Regions from separate parts of the Homo sapiens genome. Here region 1 is linked to region 2. Evidence: fine-mapped expression QTL. Tissue or cell type: testis. Region 2 holds a variant in brackets; the other region holds the start of a gene. All regions are shown on one strand. Distances are from middle to middle.

Region 1 (8,933 bases), 26 kb before region 2:
TTACACTTGAATTGTGTACTTAGTGTGTATGTGATCCTCCAGTGTTATCCCGGAGATGGATTGATGTCTCCATTGTATTTAAACCAAAATGAACTGATACTTGTTGGAATGTATGTGAACTAATTGCAATTATATTAGAGCATATTACTGTAGTGCTGAATGAGCAGGGGCATTGCCTGCAAGGAGAGGAGACCCTTGGAATTGTTTTGCACAGGTGTGTCTGGTGAGGAGTTTTTCAGTGTGTGTCTCTTCCTTCCCTTTCTTCCTCCTTCCCTTATTGTAGTGCCTTATATGATAATGTAGTGGTTAATAGAGTTTACAGTGAGCTTGCCTTAGGATGGACCAGCAAGCCCCCGTGGACCCTAAGTTGTTCACCGGGATTTATCAGAACAGGATTAGTAGCTGTATTGTGTAATGCATTGTTCTCAGTTTCCCTGCCAACATTGAAAAATAAAAACAGCAGCTTTTCTCCTTTACCACCACCTCTACCCCTTTCCATTTTGGATTCTCGGCTGAGTTCTCACAGAAGCATTTTCCCCATGTGGCTCTCTCACTGTGCGTTGCTACCTTGCTTCTGTGAGAATTCAGGAAGCAGGTGAGAGGAGTCAAGCCAATATTAAATATGCATTCTTTTAAAGTATGTGCAATCACTTTTAGAATGAATTTTTTTTTCCTTTTCCCATGTGGCAGTCCTTCCTGCACATAGTTGACATTCCTAGTAAAATATTTGCTTGTTGAAAAAAACATGTTAACAGATGTGTTTATACCAAAGAGCCTGTTGTATTGCTTACCATGTCCCCATACTATGAGGAGAAGTTTTGTGGTGCCGCTGGTGACAAGGAACTCACAGAAAGGTTTCTTAGCTGGTGAAGAATATAGAGAAGGAACCAAAGCCTGTTGAGTCATTGAGGCTTTTGAGGTTTCTTTTTTAACAGCTTGTATAGTCTTGGGGCCCTTCAAGCTGTGAAATTGTCCTTGTACTCTCAGCTCCTGCATGGATCTGGGTCAAGTAGAAGGTACTGGGGATGGGGACATTCCTGCCCATAAAGGATTTGGGGAAAGAAGATTAATCCTAAAATACAGGTGTGTTCCATCTGAATTGAAAATGATATATTTGAGATATAATTTTAGGACTGGTTCTGTGTAGATAGAGATGGTGTCAAGGAGGTGCAGGATGGAGATGGGAGATTTCATGGAGCCTGGTCAGCCAGCTCTGTACCAGGTTGAACACCGAGGAGCTGTCAAAGTATTTGGAGTTTCTTCATTGTAAGGAGTAAGGGCTTCCAAGATGGGGCAGGTAGTCCGTACAGCCTACCAGGAACATGTTGTGTTTTCTTTATTTTTTAAAATCATTATATTGAGTTGTGTTTTCAGCACTATATTGGTCAAGATAGCCAAGCAGTTTGTATAATTTCTGTCACTAGTGTCATACAGTTTTCTGGTCAACATGTGTGATCTTTGTGTCTCCTTTTTGCCAAGCACATTCTGATTTTCTTGTTGGAACACAGGTCTAGTTTCTAAAGGACAAATTTTTTGTTCCTTGTCTTTTTTCTGTAAGGGACAAGATTTGTTGTTTTTGTAAGAAATGAGATGCAGGAAAGAAAACCAAATCCCATTCCTGCACCCCAGTCCAATAAGCAGATACCACTTAAGATAGGAGTCTAAACTCCACAGAAAAGGATAATACCAAGAGCTTGTATTGTTACCTTAGTCACTTGCCTAGCAGTGTGTGGCTTTAAAAACTAGAGATTTTTCAGTCTTAGTCTGCAAACTGGCATTTCCGATTTTCCAGCATAAAAATCCACCTGTGTCTGCTGAATGTGTATGTATGTGCTCACTGTGGCTTTAGATTCTGTCCCTGGGGTTAGCCCTGTTGGCCCTGACAGGAAGGGAGGAAGCCTGGTGAATTTAGTGAGCAGCTGGCCTGGGTCACAGTGACCTGACCTCAAACCAGCTTAAGGCTTTAAGTCCTCTCTCAGAACTTGGCATTTCCAACTTCTTCCTTTCCGGGTGAGAGAAGAAGCGGAGAAGGGTTCAGTGTAGCCACTCTGGGCTCATAGGGACACTTGGTCACTCCAGAGTTTTTAATAGCTCCCAGGAGGTGATATTATTTTCAGTGCTCAGCTGAAATACCAACCCCAGGAATAAGAACTCCATTTCAAACAGTTCTGGCCATTCTGAGCCTGCTTTTGTGATTGCTCATCCATTGTCCTCCACTAGAGGGGCTAAGCTTGACTGCCCTTAGCCAGGCAAGCACAGTAATGTGTGTTTTGTTCAGCATTATTATGCAAAAATTCACTAGTTGAGATGGTTTGTTTTAGGATAGGAAATGAAATTGCCTCTCAGTGACAGGAGTGGCCCGAGCCTGCTTCCTATTTTGATTTTTTTTTTTTTTAACTGATAGATGGTGCAGCATGTCTACATGGTTGTTTGTTGCTAAACTTTATATAATGTGTGGTTTCAATTCAGCTTGAAAAATAATCTCACTACATGTAGCAGTACATTATATGTACATTATATGTAATGTTAGTATTTCTGCTTTGAATCCTTGATATTGCAATGGAATTCCTACTTTATTAAATGTATTTGATATGCTAGTTATTGTGTGCGATTTAAACTTTTTTTGCTTTCTCCCTTTTTTTGGTTGTGCGCTTTCTTTTACAACAAGCCTCTAGAAACAGATAGTTTCTGAGAATTACTGAGCTATGTTTGTAATGCAGATGTACTTAGGGAGTATGTAAAATAATCATTTTAACAAAAGAAATAGATATTTAAAATTTAATACTAACTATGGGAAAAGGGTCCATTGTGTAAAACATAGTTTATCTTTGGATTCAATGTTTGTCTTTGGTTTTACAAAGTAGCTTGTATTTTCAGTATTTTCTACATAATATGGTAAAATGTAGAGCAATTGCAATGCATCAATAAAATGGGTAAATTTTCTGACTTATGTGGCTGTTTTTGACTTCTGTTATAGGATATAAAGGGGATCAATAAATGACATCTTTGAAAGTGGCTAAGCATATTGTATTTGAACATCAGTAGAGTACTAGAGACAATTTCATTCTTCACACAAATCTCCATACTGGAAATGAATAGGGTTTGGCAGGGAATACTTCCCAAGAATGCAGTGTCCAGGGTCCTTACTTCACATCATCTGGATCTGACCCTTTGAAAGAGGTAGAAGACTTCTGAGACCGGCTAATTAAGCTTTGTTTCCTCATATGTTTTGCCAGATAGCAGTAGCAGAATGAAAAGATGAGTAACCACAGGAAGCTGCTATTTTTCCCCTCCTTTCAAACTGTACTGTTAGAGTCATGGTCCTTTTTACAGAAGGAACCTCTCATCAGATTCTGTTGATTCTAAAGTGAATAGAATTTCTCCCGATAAAGAAATAGGGGTTTGTTTCGATTAATGACTGCAGGTCTCTGAGTAAATGCTCTATTTGATTTTTTTTTTCGGCCCGTGTGTCTACCTTATGGCCCAAGTCTACCTTATGGTGGCCATTAATTCATTTTGGGCTCCTGCAGCCTTAGTTGGGATATAGAAATGAGAAACACTCAGAAATACCCTTTTGGACCACAACCAAGAGAAATAACCAATAGTCTTTTCTCCCAGTGGTAAGGAAGTCAGAATACATTGATCTAGACTGCAACAACATATATATATATATCAGATTCCGCCCCCCCGCAATACATGAATGTATAGTAAATTAGTGTGAACTCACTGAACACTCCTCAGTTTTGGTGAGAGACTATATCTGGCCTCTTTCAAGCAAAGGAAAGCCATGTAAAACAGCGCTGCTGTCAGCCTTAACTTCCAGACGATCGAGTTAATTTACTAACTTCTCAGTGACCTGTTTTTTTTTTTTTTTTAATCTCAGTTATATTTTCTTCCTTGGGCTAAATCAGATATTTGCATAGCCCCCAAAGTAGTAATTGGATAGTCTTGGGGGAAATATGCATTTCAGTGGTGAAAACCCCTGTAAATTCAATATATTTGGCTTTTGTGGAAAATTTTCCTCATGGGGTGAAGTCTAAGCCTTAGTTTCTGTATTATCATGAGAGATGACACCAGCTGCTTAGCACAAGGTGGCGCCAATGAGCTTTAGAATAAGTTGGGCTTGACCACTTGGGCCATTGTTTTCCTGCTTCCTCCCTTCAAGCCTCACCTCCCCAGCTCCCAGCTTCTACTGAACAAGGCTGAAAACCCACTCTATTGCAGGGAAAGGGAAAGATTAATGAAAAATGTCAGTTTCTTAAGTCAGCACTGGTGAAACTTTCCTAAAACAGGAATGGCGTTTGCTGAGTTTTCTCTGGGGTCTCTGCTTTCTGCAGCTAGCTTCCCTGCTTGACTGCCTAGAAGGCCTCTGCTTTCGGGTTTCCATCTCTTTCCCCTCCAGAGGACCCTACAGCCTAGGCGGGAGGTGGTTAAGGCTTCTGGCTGCTGTGCAATGGGGCCATCTGTGTTTGATCAATCCTGGCGGAAAGGAGGGGGTGGGGGTTGTAAAGAGAACTGAAAGCATTCCAGAGTAGTGAGAGAGACCCAGAGATCAGGAGAGAAGGCACCGCCCCCACCCCGCCTCCAAAGCTAACCCTCGGGCTTGAGGGGAAGAGGCTGACTGTACGTTCCTTCTACTCTGGCACCACTCTCCAGGCTGCCATGGGGCCCAGCACCCCTCTCCTCATCTTGTTCCTTTTGTCATGGTCGGGACCCCTCCAAGGACAGCAGCACCACCTTGTGGAGTACATGGAACGCCGACTAGCTGCTTTAGAGGTGAGGGACCCCTTTCTCTTCTAGCCCCGCCTAGAAGGATTCCAGGGCTATTGGTTCAACCAGTTTGTTAGGGATCTGGGGATAACAAGAAAGGGCTCTGTTAGAGTCTACAGAAAATTCTCTCTTAATAAGAGGACCTTCGGAATGACAAGCCCTCCTCTTACCCCACATAGAACAATTCCAAAGCAAATCGACTTTTGCGTTTTACCTCTGGGATTAGATAGAATAAGGGGGCAGAGTGGAAACGAGAGCCAAAATTGTGGGGCTGCATCTCCAGAGAAGGTGATGATTCTGTTGAAGTTGGAGGTTCCCGGGGAATCTATAACTTCCTGTCTTTTTAACAGGTTGAGATCCGTAGCATTTTAGTGTCCGAGAGGATAATTGCTAAGGGAGCAGAGACCTCTTCACACCTTCATGCGCTTAGACCTGCCTAGAGGCTCAGATGGCTCAGTGGCACTGCTCACAGAGAACACAGGCTGGAGGACATGGAGTCGGGGTAGGGGCCTAGGTGAATCTCAGCTAGGCTCTTTGCACATTTAGCACCTCTGCACATCTGGTTTCCTTTTCTGCAGGAGTGGAAGGGGATATTGAAGCCTGGCTGAGTTTGCTCTTTTTTTCCCATTCCTGACTCCCGAGTTGGGCCTCTCCCTGCCTGGGAGTTGTAACCCTGCAGCCTCCCTCCTGATCCCCCATCCCTTCAGGAACGGCTGGCCCAGTGCCAGGACCAGAGTAGTCGGCATGCTGCTGAGCTGCGGGACTTCAAGAACAAGATGCTGCCACTGCTGGAGGTGGCAGAGAAGGAGCGGGAGGCACTCAGAACTGAGGCCGACACCATCTCCGGGAGAGTGGATCGTCTGGAGCGGGAGGTAGACTATCTGGAGACCCAGAACCCAGCTCTGCCCTGTGTAGAGTTTGATGAGAAGGTGACTGGAGGCCCTGGGACCAAAGGCAAGGGAAGAAGGAATGAGAAGTACGATATGGTGACAGGTAAATAATCTGAAAGCAGGCCCCTAACTCTTCTCAGAACCGATATTCTTCCTTCCTTGCTTCTTACTCTTTTTTTCGCTTTGTCCCAGTCCATTGTGGCTCTGTCTTCTGGAATCTGTTTTAGGGAAACCTCTGTAATGCCAGGTCTATTAAGGAGAGGTTCTGGGGATCCAGGCCGCTGTGGTACCCGCTCTTTCTCAATTCTCCCTAAGATTGGAGGCAACCACTGGGCAAATGCTCACTATTCTCCAGATCACCCACCCTGGGGGAGTTCCTGCTGGAGGCATCTAATTCTTGCCTCTATTTCCTTTTCCTGTGCTTTTCTCATCAGACTGTGGCTACACAATCTCTCAAGTGAGATCAATGAAGATTCTGAAGCGATTTGGTGGCCCAGCTGGTCTATGGACCAAGGATCCACTGGGGCAAACAGAGAAGATCTACGTGTTAGATGGGACACAGAATGACACAGCCTTTGTCTTCCCAAGGCTGCGTGACTTCACCCTTGCCATGGCTGCCCGGAAAGCTTCCCGAGTCCGGGTGCCCTTCCCCTGGGTAGGCACAGGGCAGCTGGTATATGGTGGCTTTCTTTATTTTGCTCGGAGGCCTCCTGGAAGACCTGGTGGAGGTGGTGAGATGGAGAACACTTTGCAGCTAATCAAATTCCACCTGGCAAACCGAACAGTGGTGGACAGCTCAGTATTCCCAGCAGAGGGGCTGATCCCCCCCTACGGCTTGACAGCAGACACCTACATCGACCTGGCAGCTGATGAGGAAGGTCTTTGGGCTGTCTATGCCACCCGGGAGGATGACAGGCACTTGTGTCTGGCCAAGTTAGATCCACAGACACTGGACACAGAGCAGCAGTGGGACACACCATGTCCCAGAGAGAATGCTGAGGCTGCCTTTGTCATCTGTGGGACCCTCTATGTCGTCTATAACACCCGTCCTGCCAGTCGGGCCCGCATCCAGTGCTCCTTTGATGCCAGCGGCACCCTGACCCCTGAACGGGCAGCACTCCCTTATTTTCCCCGCAGATATGGTGCCCATGCCAGCCTCCGCTATAACCCCCGAGAACGCCAGCTCTATGCCTGGGATGATGGCTACCAGATTGTCTATAAGCTGGAGATGAGGAAGAAAGAGGAGGAGGTTTGAGGAGCTAGCCTTGTTTTTTGCATCTTTCTCACTCCCATACATTTATATTATATCCCCACTAAATTTCTTGTTCCTCATTCTTCAAATGTGGGCCAGTTGTGGCTCAAATCCTCTATATTTTTAGCCAATGGCAATCAAATTCTTTCAGCTCCTTTGTTTCATACGGAACTCCAGATCCTGAGTAATCCTTTTAGAGCCCGAAGAGTCAAAACCCTCAATGTTCCCTCCTGCTCTCCTGCCCCATGTCAACAAATTTCAGGCTAAGGATGCCCCAGACCCAGGGCTCTAACCTTGTATGCGGGCAGGCCCAGGGAGCAGGCAGCAGTGTTCTTCCCCTCAGAGTGACTTGGGGAGGGAGAAATAGGAGGAGACGTCCAGCTCTGTCCTCTCTTCCTCACTCCTCCCTTCAGTGTCCTGAGGAACAGGACTTTCTCCACATTGTTTTGTATTGCAACATTTTGCATTAAAAGGAAAATCCACTGCTCCTCTCCTGTGTTTGTTTGGGGTAGCCCTCAGATCAAACTTCCCCCTGACCATCCAGTTTCTCCCTCCCAACCCATCCCCACTCCTTGAGCCATATTAAAGACTTGGGCGGGGCTCCCTTTGCTGAGGAAGAGTTTACTGTGAGGCGCCTGGGGGAGGTGGCAGAATCCCGCCACTTTAGGAGGCTGGACGAAAGGCCTCCTTCCACACCCACCGCCATCCACAGCAGCCAATCCACAGCAGCCATCCTAGAACCTCAGTGGCACCGTGCCTCTGGCTGTGAGACACTGGGGCCCAGGGCAGAGATTCCAGTTCCGATTCTCAGAGGATTTTGAACTACAAAATGCATGTTAGTTGCATTGCATTCTAGTGTGGAAACCAGAGCCCTGAATGCCTGTGTTTTTAGTAAGAACTGAAGTCTCCCCTCTAAAGTGGACTCTGCCCCGCACCCCAGACCTCCACTCCCACCTCCAGCGTTGTGCTCCTGCAGGGCCAGGTTGCACAATCATTCTTGGTCTGGACCGCTCTGATTTTCCTGCTGCCACGGCGTCTGCGGTTTGTGCAGGGAGGAGGGGCAGTGACCGTGTCCCAGATGTTGGCCTTACACGGTCTGCAGCCTATTCTTGCTTTCCTTTTCTCCACTCTCATCACCCTCACCTACCCACTCCAGCCCTGAACCTGGCTGAAGCCCGTCAGGACTTCTGGAAACTTAACCCTCTCTGGCCCATACCCTGGCCTCTGGCGTTGGATTGCAGAGCGTAATGTGGGGAAGAGGGAAGGGAGAAGGGAGAGGAGGAGGAAGGCTCCAGGCTTTGGACTCCAGTCTCCAGGAATCTGCTGATTTCTGCACCAGGCCCCCACCCCAGCCTCACCCTCACTGCTGCATGCTCAGCTCGCAGGGGCAAGGCTGGCTGATGGGCAGGATCCACTGCTTTCATGAGGAGTCCACCTCAGGCATGCCTGGGGGTCCTCTTGGTTATTTGCTCTAGCCAAGTGCGGGAAGGGGGCACAGCCTTCTCCCCAAAGCACAGCCCTCCTTCCCGCCCCAGGTGGGGTGGCTCAGTCAGGGCCCTGTGAGCCTCCCTTTATCTTCTTTTCTTTTCTCCTCAGGCAGAGCTGCTCCAGACGTAGGTTGATGAGGATGGGGAAAGAAAGACAGTGAAGCACCTCAGAAAGGCGCTATTATAGGGAGACCGGGGCGGGCAGGGGCTCTCTCCCATTGAATTCTCTCCTAATGTGGGGCTGGCAACAGTAATCACCACCTGTCAGCCCACGGAAGGGTCTGCCCACAGAACAGCTGGCTGCGGCACACGTGGTGCACAGGGAGGGGTTGAGGGGGAAGGGCATTCTGAGCACAGGCCTGGAGAATGGGGTCTGGGCCACACGGCTGGCAGAGCAGTGTGGGGACTGTGGGTGCCCCATGTGGAAGGGGAGCTTGTCTGCTCCCTAGCGTGACTGTGTGTGTGTGTGTGTGTGTGTGTGTTGGGGGTGGGAGGTGCCTGTGTGTGGCAGAGGTGCTTGTCTGCTCCCTAGTG
Region 2 (8,933 bases):
ATTGCTAGGAAGCTGAATTCATGAAGAATGAAACTCTGCTCAGTGACAGGTGAGGAGGCAGAGGGACTTCCTGTCAACTCCTCCAGGTGTGTACCTGTCTATAAACCCTCACCTGCTGGGTCAGGGTGTCTTGCTTCAAACTTGTGACTAGGGCCAGCTTCCTAGGCATGTGGCCTGTGCAGGTGCACAGAACCCTGCACTTAGAAGGGGTTGAGCTTAGTTTAATGTTCTGCTGTTGCTGTCTTGAAATTCTTAATTTTTGAAAAAGGAACTCCTTATTTCCATTTTGCACAGGGCCTGGGAATTATGTAGCCGGCCCTGACAGTTGATTTTTCATTGTCAATGGCTCTGTCTTGCGTTCATCTGCCCTTTCCCAACTCTGACCTTTTCTCAGGGGCAAAGTGATGTTTGCTCTAAAAGCATACATATCATGTAAAAGTATGTGTCTGTCTTTTAGGAAGACAATTTATTGCTTTTTATACCCTATTTAGAGAAGTAATACAGGTAAATTATAGGAAATCTGAAAAGTACGAAGAAGAAAAAAATTATCCATATACCCACCACACAATGATGTAGCTTTCTAGACTTTTAATACATACTTCTGTTTTGTTCTGGCTTTACATCATTGGAAATATCAGAAATAATGTTTGGGAAAATGCTTTTTAAAGATTACTAACATAGCATGAGAATTTCCCCCATATCATAATTTTTTCTTCAAAAGTTTTTTTGTTGTTAGCTACATAGCATTCCACTACACAAAAATGCCATCATTAACTCAAATGATCCCTTCTTTTTGGGCCATTTATGTTTACTACAAATAACACTGTAAAGATAACACTTATATACGTTAGAAAACCAAAAAAAAAAGATGATTTGTTTAGTTGTTTATTTATTTTATTATTTATTTTTGGGGGAATAAGCAGTGTTTATTGGGCTCAGACCAGGAGTCCATGGGTCTTGAGGACCTCTGCGTATCTGTCAGTTTTCTCCATGTTCTTTGCTGCCTGTTTCTGTGGCCTTAAGAGCTGCTTTTCCTTCCCTGAGTAAATCCTGGCCTTTTCCTTCCTCTCCTCCTGCAGGTGGCTGTCACTGCCTGCTACTTCTAGCCAGCTTCGTGAGTCAGGCACCCCAGGCAGGCAAACTTTCTTGTAGGCTTCAGACATACCACCTGGAGGGCCGCAGAAACAACCTTCAGCTGTTTCTTGTCGCAGGGCCGTGGGATCCCAGCACACACCTTGAGGCGGTCCTGGGAGGCTTGGCCTCGCGCGGTCCAAACCAGGTATATGGGGGCCCAGGAAGGGTGGGGGTCCGGGAAGGGTTGGTGTTCATCCACCTGTGGAGGAAGGCCAGGTACTTCACCTGGTTTCTGTAGAAATTGCCAGAAATGGGCCAACATAGTGAAACCCTGTCTCTACTAAAAATACAAAAATTAGCTGGGCGTGGTGGTGCGTGCCTGTAGTCTCAGCTACTCGGGAGGTTGAGGCAGGAGAATTGCTTGAACCTGGGAGGTGGAGGTTGCAGTGAGCCGAGGTTGTGCCACCGCACTCCAGCCTGGGTGACAGAGCGAAACTCCGTCTCAAAAAAAAAAAAAAAAAAAAAGAAAAGAAAAGAAATTGCCAGAAATTCTGATGCCCTCGCTGTGCACGACCCCCACCCTCCGGCCCAGCAGTGCCTGCTTAGCCACGATGGCCCCCGCGTCCCCAGAGGTGGCCTCGGCCTCAAGCACCAGGACCTGCCCCTCACCCCTACGCCATCTTCGATAGCCGCTTGGGGAAACAAAACAGATTATGCTGGGCGGGTTGAATTCCTAGAAGTAAGACCTTAGACATACATTGCCAATTGCCCTCTGGAAAACCCTTCCAATTTACAGTGGCTACGGAAGGAAGCAAGTGGGCGAAGGAGACGTGGAGGAAAAGGAGTTCTGCTTGGTGCTTTGGGCTCTGTGGGCAACAGCCGACTTTCTCTCTCTTTCAGTACTGGTTGGGGTGCACTGCAGTGATTTAGAGCAGAACTCGCTCTTCCACAATCCAAAATTCTTTCCTGGAAGTGGCGTGTCCCTGGCGCTCTCCTGTCCCCACCAGCGCTGAGGCGGGTGGGAGCTCCCAGGAGCGGCTTCACATTCAGTCGCTGCAGGATCACAGCACTGATGCCCCTGCAAAGCTGCCACTGGGAACATTTTAGTGTGCTGGGCTTGGTTTAATGTCACCGTGCTCTTTCCAAAGTCTCCTGAGGGGAGAAGAATAGCATTCCAAGCGTGATAGTTTCTAGTGAGGGTCTCTAATGAGGAAAGAGAGCTGCAGAGGAGGCGCTTGCTCCTGGGCAGCTGCTGCTGTCTCCCAGATTCATTCTGAATGTCCACGATCCCTGCGTTCACAGAACGAGTCTGCTAGTGGCTGTCATGATCATTTAGGCTTTTATTTAGGCTTTGTGAGGGGGGATGTGACCAGTTGGTCTGTTTACTACGGAGGCCTTGGCCTGTCTCTGTGGGAGGAGCTACCATATGCTGCTGGTGGGGCAGGAGCTCTTCACATCTCTTTGAAACGCAAGTTGCAAAATCTCTGCATGTTTCTACTCTGGGTCTGTGGCCAGGGTGACTCCCAGAGACTGGCTTGTGCTAGTGGGGAGAGGAGAGGGGAGGAGTGTGTTGGGGGAGGCTGGGTTGAGAAGTGACATTTACAGACCAGCTGTGCAGCAGACCCCAAGGGATCCTCAGCCCCTGCAAGGCTTCCTTTGACCCTGTGGGTCTGGGGCAGGGAAGGAGGAGGGCCAGGGGTTCTCTTTACATTTAGCTGCCCCGGTTCTTCTTTGCTTTGGATGACCTTCTCTTGATGTGGTGAATTTCCCATCTGCTAGAGATACACAATTTCTGACTTCCACCGTTTTCCTTGAACTTCTTTCTGCCTCTGCTCATGAGCCCTCTTCTTGCTACAGTCCCACTCCCCTCCATCATATGCAAGGCACTGCTGGCTCCAGGGCTCGTGTGGGAGGTCTCGCACACACACAGGTTGGACCCACACCGGGCTAGAGCCACCAGGGACAAACCACTGGCCTTTTGGCTCCTCCTCACATGTTCCCCTCCCACTTCCCCTACCCCAATCCCCATGGGAAGAACAAAAATCTCTGGTCTCTGCAGCCCACTGTGAAGAATGTCATCTGAAGGGAAGCCACACTGCCAGCAAAGGAAGTGGCCTCCTGCCTTCCCCCGCCTATGGTTCTGCCCCAAGTCCACTTAGTAAACAAAAACTTCTTAGATTGGAGTCTGTGGATGCAGTCTTATGTTCTGCTAGTTCTCCAAGCATTGCTGGAATTTCGACTTTTCAATTTTATGATAAGCTTTACAGAAACTCATACCATTTATAAAGACAAAACTGAAGTCTGTGTTTTTGCATATATGTTTCCTGGGATCCTATGAAAATTTTTCTCCTTTAAAAGGGACTGAATTTTAGACAAGTTTGAGAAATACTGCACAGTGCCTCCAATGATAACAACAGCCTTTGTTGAGCCCGTAATCAATGGTAAACCCTGTGCAGCGGCTCCTTTCGCTCCTCCAGTAGCTAGGCATCCCCTTTTTCCAAAAAAAGGAGAGCAAAGCTAAGAGACAAAATG[G/C]CTGGCCGGTGCCACACAGGCCAGGAGGCCAAGATACAAATGCCAGTCTGATACCAAAGCCCATACTCTTAATTTTATGAGGCTCTCCCTGTGGGAGGCATTGTTCTAGGCAGTGCAGGGATGAGAGTGGAATGTGGTTGTAAAAATTAACTCCAATATTCCTGGTCAGTTAGTTTGTAACCCACGAGAGGATATAACACATATATACATGTAACTAATAAAGATTGGACTGTGACTACTGCTAGAAACCAAGTGCTAGGAAGTGCCTAGGAACAGATGAAAAGGCAAGTTTTAGCTTAATGGATTGGGTTCGAAGAGGGTAGGATCACTCATTTTTAAACCAACGTTTGATTGAGCTTCTATTTGGTGCAAGGAATTGTGCTGAGCACTGTCCTGCCTTCAAAGAGCTCTACTAGGGCAGACAGATGAATGAATGGACAATGACATATGCACAGGATGGGGAACCTCCTGGCGGGGGATGTTCTCCTCTCCACCTCAGGCTGGTTAGGGAAGCACTTGAGCAGTAGCAGAGAGGGAAGGTGTATTAGTTCATTCTCGCATTGCTATAAAGAAATACCTAAGGCTGGGTATGTACAAAGAAAAGAGGTTTAATTGGCTCACAGTTCTGCAGGCTGTACAGGAAGCATGGCACTGGCATCTGCTCAGCTTCACGTGAGGCCTCGGGAAGCTTTCAATCATGGCAGAAGGCAAAGGGGGAGCCGGCATCTTACATGGCAAGAATGGGAACAAGAGAAAGTGTGAAGTGGGGAGGTGCCGCATACTTTTAAACAACCAGATCTTGTGTGAACTCACTCCTCACCAAGGGGACGGTGTTAAGCCATTCATGAGGGATCTGACCCCGTGATCCAAACACCTTCTACCAGGCCCCACTTCCAACACTGGGAATTACATTTCAACATGAGATTTACCGGGGACACAGATCCAAACCATATCAGAGGGGAAAGGGGATGTATGCTGAGTGCAGAGGAAACAGCTGGAACAAAAAGGGAGTGAGAGGCTGTGGGCCGCACAGGGAATTAGAATCAGTCCTCCATTACCCAGGGCAGGGGGCGTTGCTTGGGTAGTGGCTGTAGAAAAGTGAAGGAGATAGGCCTAAGTGCAAATCACAAAGTTTTGAAGCTTTAACAGGGAAATAGGCAGTTTCTGGCAACCTGTTGAAGGTGTTAAGAATAGGAATTATAAAAAGTTAACAGGCTGGGCAGACACCTGAGGGAGGCCAGATAGGAGACTCTTGCAGTAATGCAGGTGAGAAATGGGGAGATCTTAGTTACGGCTTCTTATTGCACTCATGGTAAAGGCCCAGAGCCATTCCAAGGACCTATCAGGCCCCACACAGGCTGACCCGTTATCTCCAGCTAGTCTTCTCTGGTTCAGCCACACTGATCCTTAAACAAGCCAGCCATGTCGACCTCAGGGCCTTTGTGCCTCTCTCTGGAATGTCTCCTTTCCAGGGAAGCCTTCCTAGCCATTTTATTTAAAGTAGTCCCCTACCCTCAACTCCCTGTTCCATTTCCATGTTGTAGTTTTCTCCATCTACCTCACTATAGCTTTTACTTCTTTGTTTATTTTCTGTCTCCTTCCAGTAGAATGGAAACCCCTTGAGGGCAGGTATGTGTCTGTCTTGCTCACTGCTGTCTCACCAGGTGCCTTCAGCCTGGCACATAGTAGGTACCTATAAATATTGGCTAAATGAGTGAATTATTGAATTTCATAGGTGAAAGAAAAAATCCACAAAGGCAGGGGTAGTAGCAGTGGGGTTGAGAACAGTGAAGAGGTAGGGAGAAATTTAGGAGGGATTGTGGATGACAGGACCTGGGATTGCTGAATGTGGGGGGAAGGGAGAGAGGAGTAAAGGGCTACTCTTAGGTGTCTGAGCTCCAGCATAGGGTCAGTGGGGGGCCATTTCAGCAGCTAGGAGACTGGTTTGAACTATGTCCGGCTGGGTGTGGTGTCTGTTGCATGTAATCCCAGCACTTTGGGAGGCTGAGGTAGAAGCATTGTTTGAGCTCAGGAGTTCAAAGCCAGCCTGGGCAACATAGTGAGACTCCATCTCTAGTTAAAAAAAAATAGCCAGGCATGGTGATATGCACCTGTAGTCCCAGCTACTCAGGAGGCTGATGTGGGAGGATTGCTTGAGCTTAAGAGATTGACACTGCAGTGAGCTATGATTGTACCACAGCACTCCAACCTAAGTGAGACCAGGATCGAAAAAAAAAAAAAAAAAGTGAGATCCTGTCTCAACAAAACCAAAAACAAAAAAAACAAACTATGTCTGGAGGATCCCTGGGAATTTCCTGGAGCCACTTTGGGGAACCATCAAAGGGAAGAAGGGTTGAGCTGAGGAACAAGGCTCCAGTCAGAGAAAATCAGTATTTATTTTGTTTTTGATTTTCTTGTTTTGGTTTGGTTTAATTTTTAAGTCACTGAGATCAGAAATTATAATAACTTATAGTTATTGTGTTCTTACAATGTTCTGGATATTAGGCTAAGCATTTAAAACTAGATCTTCTCATTTCCTCTTTATGACAATTCTATAAGGGTGACACTATTATCCTCTTTCTACAGCCCAGGAAACTGAGGCAGAAGAGAGATTAAGTGACTTTTCTAAGGTCACAGAATTAGTAAGTGAAGAGCAATGCAATTCCTGAATCCATAGTCTAAAGAGAGAAAATAGACAATGTATGGTCTGGTGGAGAACAGAGTATCACCCTTATTACTGATGATAGCAGTGTCACTCAGTTTTCACACTGCTATGAAGATACTACCTGAGACTGGGTAATTTATTAAAAAGGAGGTTTAATGGACTCACAGTTCTGCATGGCTGGGGAGGCCTCAGGAAACTTACAATCATGGCAGAAGGAGAAGGGGAGGCAAGGCACGTCTTACATGGCTGCTGGACAGAGACAGAGAGTGAAGGGGAAGTGCTACTTTTAAGACCGTAAGATCTCGCAAGAACTCACTATTACAAGAACAGGATAGGGGAAACCACCCCTATAATCCAATCACCTCCCACCAGGTCCCTCCCTCAACACCTGGGGATTACAATTCGAGATGAGATTTGGGTGGGGACACAGAGCCAAACCATATCAACAGCTGTCACATCTAGAGCAAATTGAGGTTGTTAATGTCCATTCCAGAAACCAAGGTGAACAGGCTCTCAGGGTTGGTGCCTGTCTGGTTTCCAGCCAGGTAGACTCCAGCAGGAGCACCCTGCTCAGGTCGGTCTTTCTGACAGGTAATGAAATGTCACAGCAGAAAGAAGAGCTCCCCGCCCCCCAAGGTGTGCATGAGGGTGTGCTCCTGTTGAAAGTGTGGTGCTGGGTGGGGAGAGTTACCGAAGATGGAGAACAGTGGCTTGAAACCAATAAAAACCAACTGCTGGGAGAAACACTCACCAGTTTCTGAAGATCTTAAACAAAGGACCTAAACTAGGAGATGGCAGACAAAATCATCAAAAAGAAATGTGTCCACTGGGGACTGTGGGGAGCCCCTGCCCCATCTGAAGGGCAGCTGCTGCCCTGGGCCAGCCAGTTTTTGCCACCAGGGGATGTGGGCTCAAGGTTGCTTCATTTTTCATTTTTTTTTAAAAGCCAGGAATCTGGATTTTTGCGCAAAATCATCTGACTTTTAAACGTTGCCGAAACTCCCAAAACCGTATGTGGTCCAAACCAGTAACCTCACAGGGCCCCATCTGGCCTGCACGCCGTGGTTTGTGTCCACTGACAAGGAATCTTAACCTCTTTGGGCCTTGGGAATCTGATGAAAATGTTCAGGCATTTTCTAGGAAAAAGAAATGCCTGAACAAACACATAATTTTGAGTATCATTTCTGGGTGTCTCTCTGCCCCCGGAATCATCCTTTTCTAAAGGCACACTTTGTAAAGGTAAGAGGGCTTCTGAGCAAACCTGAGGTCTGGGAAGGTACAAGCTGACAGGGGTATCTGGGTTTGTCCCACATCTGAATGAAACAGTGCTGTTTGTTGGAGTCAATATGTCCACATCTGTTTGCTTATGAGTCCTGCTTTGTACCCAACTTTCCTTGGCAGTCTTGGTTAATTCCCTCTGTATCAGTAAGGTTGCACAGGGGAGCAGGAAAGAGGCCCAAGAGGCCTGGATACTGGTCTGGAGGGGGCAGAAGAGCAGACATGAAGGCAGTGAGGGAGGCTGGATGTGGGGGGTGGGGGATGGGGGGGACTTTAGAGCTAGACTTTGAAGCGTTGATAGAACTAAAAAGAAGAAATAAATTATTTTTCTGATCTTGGACAAGGAGGAAGGACATGGATTTAAAGTTGGATGCCCTAAATGCCAAGACTGTCTGCATCTAGGACAGGTATTACATGCAAGAGGCTCTCCTTCCAGCCAAGCATGTGCCCTAGCTAAGCTCCTGCACTTTCACAGGAGGCTGACAGCCCATCTCCAGCCCAGCCTATTAAAGAATAAGGCTGCCCTTAATTGGTAACAGGGAGGAGCTGAACCCCATGTACTTGTCAGCATAACACTGAGCTCCCTGCAGCTCAAAATTTACCAAATGCTTGGTTGCAAAAAATAGCATTAATAGAGATAAAAGACATGCATTCCCACCGTTCCTCTAGATTCCATTAGTCTTATTCACAGATAAGTCAGACCTTCAGAGACTTGAACATATGGTTTTGGCCTCTGGCTGGCTAGCTCTATTGAACAAGGCTGAGCAGTTATGCCACTGGCCTCCCTCTTTATGTACTTATCATTAAGAGAATTAAGGATGAGGTTCAGTGTGTCAGGCAAATTTCCACTTTTTGAATACTTGCGTGGCAACCTCCCAGATAGCCCCCAGCAATCCTTGCGTGTTAGTAAGTCATGCCTTTGTGTAGTCACCTCCCATATAGAATAGGGCTGACCTGTGGAGCTATAAGATATACCAGACATGATGGAATGTGACTTCTCAATCTAGGTCATGAAAGGAATTGTGGCTTCCACTATGTCCTTTCCTATACTGCCCACTCAGGAGGAAGTCAGCTGCCATGTTGTGAAGACACTCAAACAGCACAATGGAGAGGTCCATGTGGTGAAGAACTGAGACCACCTGCTAACAGCCAGCAGTGTGAGCTCACTTGCCAGCTGTGTGAGTGAGCCATCTTAGAAGTACATCCTCCAGCTCCAACTGTTGTCAGCTTTTTTGGGATATCACTTTCATATCTCTAAATAACAAGCTTATATTGCTACTTTTTTCTGTTTTAGACATTGTCTATTTATTTTCCACTTTTCCATTTTTGTAGTGAGAAACAAAAATTACCACAAAACTTAGTAGGTTAAAACAATAAACATTTA

Direction of the effects. Positions count from the first base shown, and alleles are read on the strand shown. Sizes are in standard deviations (SD) of each study's normalised expression.
As copies of C replace G in region 2, the expression in testis of the gene that starts at base 4,620 in region 1 goes up (small effect, 0.18 SD a copy in GTEx).

The links. PIP is the estimated chance that this variant, and not a neighbour inherited with it, causes the effect.
Region 1: it holds the start of OLFML3, and the variant in region 2 is fine-mapped to the expression of OLFML3 in testis (GTEx, PIP 0.98).

Annotation. Positions count from the first base shown.
Region 1 is chr1:113,974,855-113,983,787 of GRCh38, forward strand. OLFML3 (olfactomedin like 3) reads left to right here and starts at 4,620. Exons shown (of 3, transcript NM_020190.5): 1 at 4,620-4,776; 2 at 5,478-5,763; 3 at 6,095-7,399. The coding sequence starts at 4,663. The coding sequence ends at 6,915. HIPK1 (homeodomain interacting protein kinase 1) reads left to right here. Exons shown (of 16, transcript NM_198268.3): 16 at 1-3,015. RefSeq lists enhancers at 1,981-2,558, 3,864-4,697, 6,365-7,197, 8,453-8,933.
Region 2 is chr1:114,000,498-114,009,430 of GRCh38, forward strand. It overlaps the pseudogene RPL13AP10. Among named protein-coding and RNA genes, the nearest start is that of OLFML3, 25 kb to the left of the region's middle. The variant G/C (reference allele first, on the strand shown) is at 3,607.